Linked DNA regions of Homo sapiens. The protein of the gene in region 1 purifies or fractionates together with the protein of each later gene. This does not show direct contact. Each region holds a gene or a part of one and is shown on either strand. Other genes may lie near its edges.

Region 1 (3,500 bases):
GGTATAAGTGATAAATAAAAATTGTATAATTCAAGTCATACAACACCATGTTTTGATATATGTATACATTGTGAAATGATTACCACTATCAGGCTAATTAACATATCCATTAGCTCACATAGTTACCTTGTTTTGTGGTGGGAATACTTAAGACGTACGCTCAACACATTTTCAATATATATTATTATGAACTATAGTCACCACGCTGTACGTTAGTCTTCCAGAACTTATTCATCTTATAACTGCAAGTTTATGCCCATTGGCCAGCATCTCCCCATTTCCCTTACCCTCTAGCCGCCACCATACTACTCTGTGTTTCTGTGAGTTTCACTTTTTTACATAACACATGTATGTTATGAGCCTGCAGTATTTGTCTTCATGTGTCTGGCTTATTTAACTTCGCATAATGTCTTCCAGATTCAACCATGATGCAAATGGCAGTATTTCTTTTTTAAGGCTGAATAATATTCTATTGTGTATATATACCACATTTTCTTCATCCATTTATCTGTTTATGAGCACTTTTGTTGTTTCTATATCTTAGCCAACCTCTTGACACAATGTAGTTATTCTTTATTAGCTATAGGCCATTAATACAGGGTTTGAATAATATGCTTCTATTTGATTGCTGGGGCTGTGGGATTTTTGCCTTTGTAGCTAAATCAGCAGCAAGTTAAAGTGGTGTAGGTCTGTGAAGGATTGTAACCTCCTCTTCCCCCAAACAAGGGCATTGCTTGTCCAAATATGTGATCATTATAAATGTGTATATGTCTAAATATGTAAGTCACCATAATTGATTGACTGATTGACTTCTAGGAAGACCCTCACATTTATTGCTAGTTCCAGAGGCACTTCTCAAAATGATTCTCTTTTCTTTCAGGTGACATTCACTGTGAACTACACTTTCTTTCCACGAATTTGAGCAGAACAGTGTTGGGAGGCAGTTTTCAGTGTCTGTCCTACCCGCTGGTTGACAAGCTGGCTAGTGTGTTCTTGGAGTTCCGAGTCATAGTGAGAAGGATCTCTGTGTGCCCTTATTCTGCTCCACTTGTGCCCTAGTCAGTTTATGGATAGTGGATGCACAGATCACAGCCTTTTACAAAGGCTAGTGTGGCATAGTGTTTTTAGGCGAGTAAGATAGACTTGCTGTTTTAATATCAGTACTGACATTTGTTAGCTGTATGATCATAAGCAAATTACCTAACCTCTCTGAAGCTCAGTTTTCTCGAAGATTGAAATTAAAATAGGATTATTAGTTTAATTGATTATGTGTGTCATGAGGATTTAATGAGGTAATATATATACATAAAATACCTAATCCAGGGTCCAGTATTAATATTTGGTGTTTATTGTTGAAGCTGCTCAGCCATCACTGTCTTTGGTTGAAGGGAAACAGCTTTTGAGTTCTGTTCTCAACTCAGCCTCATGAGTATGCACAGATTGCTTATTGTTTGTTTTTCTTTTAAGGAAGACAATGGTGTAAAATTGGTTGATCCTTTGGGTGAAATGTTGGCACCATCCTGGGAGGAACATGCCACCTGTTTAGCAAATGCTGAGGAACAAGATATGCAGAGAGTGCTTATTGACATCAGCGAGAAAGAAGCTGTGAATCTGCAACAAGATGCCTTTGTAGTTATTGGTAGAGATACCAGGTGATGATAAGAGTTACTGGTAAAAAAAAAAACCTTTGGGAACGTGATATAAACGATTGTATCAGTTTTAATCCAAGACAAATGGAAAGAAGTAAAGTGGAACTACCCTGAGTTGCATGTCTACCTGCCTGGCCTTTCTAGTAGGATGTAGTAGCTAAGTCACTACTGCAGCTTGGGGTTTGGAGTCTGACTCTGGTTTAAAACCCTACTCCAAAACCCAAGCTGCAGAATAATGTATGTAAAATACTTCCTGACACAAGAGAAGCACTCAATAAATGTCTCCCACCCCCTCTGTAGGTTTATTTTTTTTTCCCTACAGAGTCAACACATGATTTGAACTCATTATTTTTAAAGATTTACTTTGTAATCTGTGTTATTATTGTTTCAAATATTTATATCATTTTCCCATGCTGGAGCTCACTGTAAACTACAATATTATTTTCCACATAGTTCTGTTTTGCAGCTTTTGCCTTTCTTAACAAAAATGTCTTTTTGTAAAATATTAGATGAAAAGTATACTTTGCAACAGTAGCATTTCCTTTTGCATAAGATCTGGTTTTAACCTGAGATTATTTCAAAAGGAAATTTCTACTCAATCTCCAATACCTGGACTGGTTTTTTTACCCTCTGTTGTATTACCAGAGGGTTTTCCAGATACCGACGATGGTAGCAGAGTAACTTATGTTCTGAAGTAAATTATCCCACCACAGTAAAGTCATCCCACATGTATTTGGTTCTTAACTATTAACTAATGTAAGTGATGAAACGTTTTTTCCTACAAGGCAGTTTTTTTATTATTTTTTATTTTTTTGATACGGAGTCTCGCTCTGTCACCAGGCTGGAGTGCAGTGGCACAGTCTTGGCTCATTGCACCCTCTGACTCCCAGGGTCAAGTGATTCTCCTGCCTCAGCCTCCCGAGTAGCTGGGACTACAGCTGTGTGCCACCACGCCCAGCTAATTTTTGTATTTTTAGTAGAGACGTGGTTTCACCGTGTTGGCCAGGATGGTCTCAATCTTGTGATCCACCCACCTCGGCCTCCCAAAGTGCTGGGATTACAGGTGTGAGCCACTGTGCCTGGCCAAGGCAGTTTTGTAATCTGTTTTATTTTCAGATAGATAATTTGTTCTGACTTTACAAAATGGAAAACAGGTTCTATATCCTTGGCAGCTTAATACAAGTACTGTCTTATACACACTGTGTATATTCAGTGTTTATTGTTACTGTTCTTAGAGTTCAGACATGTTGCTGTAGTCGAACTTGAAAAGGTATTTGGGTATGCTGTGGTTAGAGTGTCCTTTATATCTATTTTATAAATTCATTTAAAAGCCAGAATTTTTCCTAGAACTAGATTGTGAAAGGCTACTGGAAAATGCTTATAATTTACCAGTTATCTTGAGAGTTCATAGCTTTCAGTTCAGATACCAGGAACTTACTATTTTGAAATTTGTAGCATGTAATTTTTGCATTTGCTTGCAGAACCAGCAACCCTGCCAGTTTCAGGATGGGATATATTATTTTCTTCCTTTTCTTTCCTAGGCCCAGCAGTGAGAAACTTTCACAATCTGTAATAGATGGTGTGACTGTTCTAGGAGGTCAATTCCATGGTATGTAGTTATCCTGAGTTGGAAATTAAACTAATATTTAAAAAACTTTAATTTACAAAAGTAATGTATATTTATTTAGAAAAGTTTGAAAATACAGATGAACAAAAAATGTTTAAAAAATGAACTCCTAGATACAAAATACTAACTTTAAAAATCATCTTCCAGGTCGTTTCTGGGCAGGCATGTTTTGTCTTACCTATGGTAGTACTATAGGAGATTATAGCTGGGAAATTCTGAACTAA
Region 2 (4,276 bases), on another chromosome or scaffold:
AAAGCAGATGTCATTAGCCACTCTGATACACTATGCTGCTGATTCATAAAATAGGTAAGAGCAGATCGTTTTCTTCATCAGAAATATCTGGAAAAAAAAAAGCCACCAAGCACTGTATGTGTCAATTTCTCACCTTTTTTTAAAAAAAAAAAGAGTGGGCTGCTACAGTGGATATGTTCTACATCTCTTTGGGGCAGTGATTACATACAATTGTCATAACTCGATGGAACTGTCTACAGGATCTGTGTATTTTCTTTTAAGTAATTTATAACTCAACTTTTTTTATGGGAAGCTGTAGTTAACACTGGATAGTTAATACTTGGCTGATAAGAAACCGACTTGTTACAGAGAAAATGAGTCCCTTCCATCTTGGGCACAAAACGGCTCCACAAGACCAGCCTAGCTCTCTGGGCAGGCAGGTAACACTGGCAGGCAGAGGCATGCTCCTTGAATCTCACTGAGGGGGACAAGTGTTAGTGCGAGGCAGGTAGGAGCAAGGCCGCACACGCAGACTCTGTCATCTGGGCAGCTGCCCAATCCCCGTTTTTCATTTGTAACAAAAATAGTGTCCACCTCTTAATAATGTTCTGAGGATTAAGGGCGTTAAGTCGGATGTTTGTTGAAAGCACTTAGGCATAGTAGGAAGTACTAAGTAAATATGTCTTACCACTATTTATTATAAAAGATGAACAGGCTGGCCCGGCGTGGTAGCTCACGCCTGTAATCCCAGCACTTTGGGAGGCCGAGGCGGGCGGATCACGAGGTCAGGAGATCAAGACCTTCCTGGCTAACACAATGAAACCCGGTCTCTACTAAAAATACAAAAAATTAGCCGGGCGTGGTGGCGGACGCCTATAGTCCCAGCTACTCGGGAGGCCGAGGCAGGAGGATGGCGTGAACCCGGGAGGCGGGGCTTGCAGTGAGCCGAGATCGCGCCACTGCACTCCAGCCTGGGCGACAGACCGAGACTTCGTCTCAAAAAAAAAAAAAAAAAAAATGAACAGGCTACTACTACTACTACTACACACACACACACACACACACACACACACACAGAGCCACTGCCTAAAAATCTGGCAATCCTTCCTGACATTTATTACTGAATAACGAACGGTTACCAAACCTGTCTCCCAAATCACAAGACTCTTCCAGATTAAAATGTCTCTCGCCCACTTGGATCCACTCGCCTGTCTAGGACACAAACCCGTGAGGCACCAGCCCCCGTGACAGAGGCAGATTCCAGCTTCGCCTCACGCCACCTCACGCCTCGCGCCAGCCTTCCCACCACTGCCCGCGCAGCCCGCGCGGCGTCACGTGACCTCTAGTTCCGCACCGCCCCCCCCACCCCCCGGCCTAGCTGCCGGATCCCCGCCCCGGCTCGTCCGCGGTGTCACATGACACCTGGACCAGCCGCTGGCCAATCCCCTCCCTCCCGGGTTGCGAGGCATCACGTGGACGCTACTCGCTATCCCCGGCCTGTTGGCTTCTTCCGCGCTGGAGTATCCAGATAGGCGACACGCCGGCGGGCGGCTGAGGCGGGAATGGCTGCTGTACTGCAGCGCGTCGAGCGGCTGTCCAATCGAGTCGTGCGTGTGTTGGGCTGTAACCCGGGTCCCATGACCCTCCAAGGCACCAACACCTACCTAGTGGGGACCGGCCCCAGGTAAACGTCCCTCTCCAACCTCCCCAACGTTCGCAGCCGGCCCCGGAGCCCGGGCTTTGACTGATCGCGGCTGCGCGGGCAGTGGAGAGCGCCGCGTCCTGTCCCTAGCTGGGCAGCCCCGCGCCTAGCAGCCCCGTCGGGACTGCACGCAGACACTCGGATCTCGAAGCTAGCTAAAATACGACCACCCCAGGTGATAGCTCTCTAATTTAGGGAGAAATGGAAAAAAAAAAAAAAAAAAAAAAAAAAACTTCTGTTTTGAAACCCGATTTACTGTTCTTGATGTTTGAATGCCAGGGTGTGCGTGTTTAAACTGTTGAGAAAATTCGGATGTCAAGAGTCCAAGAAAGCGTTTACTTTGCTCACTTGACTTTCACTGGTGTTTTGCCCAGAGTGTAACTTCCCTTCTCAAAAGCGATTAATTATGTTGAGGCGATTTCCTCAACTCAGCAGCAGAGGGCAGGATTCTCCTGGCTTCCAAATTGGTTCTCTGCAGCCTGTGGGCTCATAAGAGGAGCTGACATAAGTAATTTGGGGAAGTTTTTTGTTACAATTGTGTGTGACCTTGTTTGAGTTTAATTTGCAGACACAGTAACACACCTGTATTTCTAAGAAGATACTTTTGCTCTTGTTTAGCTGCATTCTGTTTTAGTGGAATTATGCAGGAATGGGAGATTTGGTTTACTGCATAGTAAGTCTTAGGCATTTAGCAACTTTTGTAGTCTTTACTGGATGAACCCAGATAATGTAGTTTCTCTTGAGCATAGAATTTAATTGTGCAGTCAAGACATAAATTATTTTTAAAATATAATTGATTACTAAAAACGATTTAGTAAGTACAGTTAATTGAGTTTTCCTTGGAAGTGTCTACTGTTTGGCGTTTTTCCAGTAAATAAGAATTTTAGAAGCAGCAGACCTGCAAAGTGGGCAGGTAAAAGATTAAGTTCAGAGTAAATAAGGCAGGGTCAGGTAGTTACCAAAGGTTTAGGCTGCCACCAGAATCTAGGAGGATAGAGAATTAAGCAGGAAAAATGCCAGATCTCTAGGGTACAGTCTGTCTTGGCTGGAAGTCCCTCAACCAAGTAAATCCATAGGCGGTCTCTCTACAGTGTGTCATCTTGAACTAGTCAATACCTCAGACAAAAGATGCATATTATCAGAATTACCCTGGAAAGTCTCTTAGAAGAACACCATGTTGGAGATCAGTGTATTGTCTCAGTAAGTTCAGCACAACCTGCCTTTTTTCCAGCGTTGAAACAGATGGCTGATTCTGTTTGAAAACCAGGTGAAGAAATTGGCTTGTGTTGAGGGGCTATATTGTATGAAAAATACATACTGTATCTTTAAACACTATAATCACACTCAACATAGCAAAGTGCTAGTGCTAAGAGAGACTTAAAGACTAACTGAGGGAAAAGCAGATTTATAGTCTCTCGTCTTAAATTACTTAACACTGTTGCTCACATAAATTAATGGAGTGGAATGGCCAGTGGAATTACTTGCACTATGTAAATTATTTCTCCATATAGTTGAACTAGAGAGTCCGTATAGTTGAGCTAGAAATAAGTGTAGATAATGCTACTGTATAAAGTAAAAGGTGTAAAGTAAAAGGTGGCTAGAAGTTAATATTAATTGGCCCCTTGTCAGATGTTCTGAGATTGGTATCCACCTGTTCCGCTTCACAAAACAGTTCTAAGATCACAAGCGGCTTTTGTATCACTAACCCCAATGGTATTTTTCTGTTCTCATCTTCCTTGAACTTCAGTGCTTTGACACCATTGACGACTCCCTCCTTAATTTGCCAACACCACATTCTTCAGGTTTCCTATTACCTCTTGAGCTGCTCTTTCTCTTTCACCTTGATAGAGTCATCTTCTTTATCAAATCTTTAATTATTTTAGTTATTCAGTATATAATCCTCATCTCTCATGTTCTTCTACTGTATTCTCTACCTAGGTGATCTCATCTACTTATTTGGCTTTGCCTTTATTATCTGTTTATTATTAACTACCAAATATATAGCTCAAGTTCAAATTCCAAACTTGATCTTCAGACTCAAGTAGCCAACTTTTAAATCTATTTGCATGACTCACTGCTGCCTGGAACTCAGTGTTTTCCATACTGAACTCATAACCTTTCCAGAAAACTGCCAGGTCCTCCTTCAGTTGTTCATATCTTGATAAACAAAGCCATCAAAGGAAATGCCTAAATACCCTTCCTGACATTTATTTGCTTCCTACTGCATATCCAAGCCATTATGAAGATCTGTTCATGTCCCCTGCTGTCACTCAGTCCAAGCCAGCACAACTCTTGCTTAGGCTACTGTAATAGCCTCCTAATTGGCTTCTGTACGACTACCTCTGTCTCTCTTCAATCCAATCTTCCCTTTGTAGCCTGAGTGGTATTTTAGGAATTAAAACTGGAAGGCCTTGTGTATTCTGGCCTCCATCAGTCTTATCAGGCTCCTCTCAAACCTCTCCCACTCCAGCCATGCTGGCCTTCTAGTGTCTCAGATGAGGTTTGTGATTCCCTGTCTCAGGGCCTTCACGCATGCTTTCCTCTTTCTTCCACTCATTCCTCCCTTCTTTACCCAGCTAATCTCATTCATCCTTT

The links. The genes of interacting proteins can lie anywhere in the genome.
Region 2: the proteins of PGM3 (region 1) and LACTB2 fractionate together in Homo sapiens (co-fractionation; one large-scale study listed by BioGRID). This does not show direct contact.

What each region holds. Positions count from the first base shown.
Region 1 is NC_000006.12:83,186,766-83,190,265, reverse strand, and holds part of PGM3 (phosphoacetylglucosamine mutase), read left to right. Parts: intron 1-1,467; coding exon 1,468-1,652; intron 1,653-3,190; coding exon 3,191-3,258; intron 3,259-3,500. UniProt on the Homo sapiens protein: Catalyzes the conversion of GlcNAc-6-P into GlcNAc-1-P during the synthesis of uridine diphosphate/UDP-GlcNAc, a sugar nucleotide critical to multiple glycosylation pathways including protein N- and O-glycosylation.
Region 2 is NC_000008.11:70,666,386-70,670,661, reverse strand, and holds the start of LACTB2 (endoribonuclease LACTB2), read left to right. Parts: upstream 1-1,476; 5' UTR 1,477-1,541; coding exon 1,542-1,663; intron 1,664-4,276.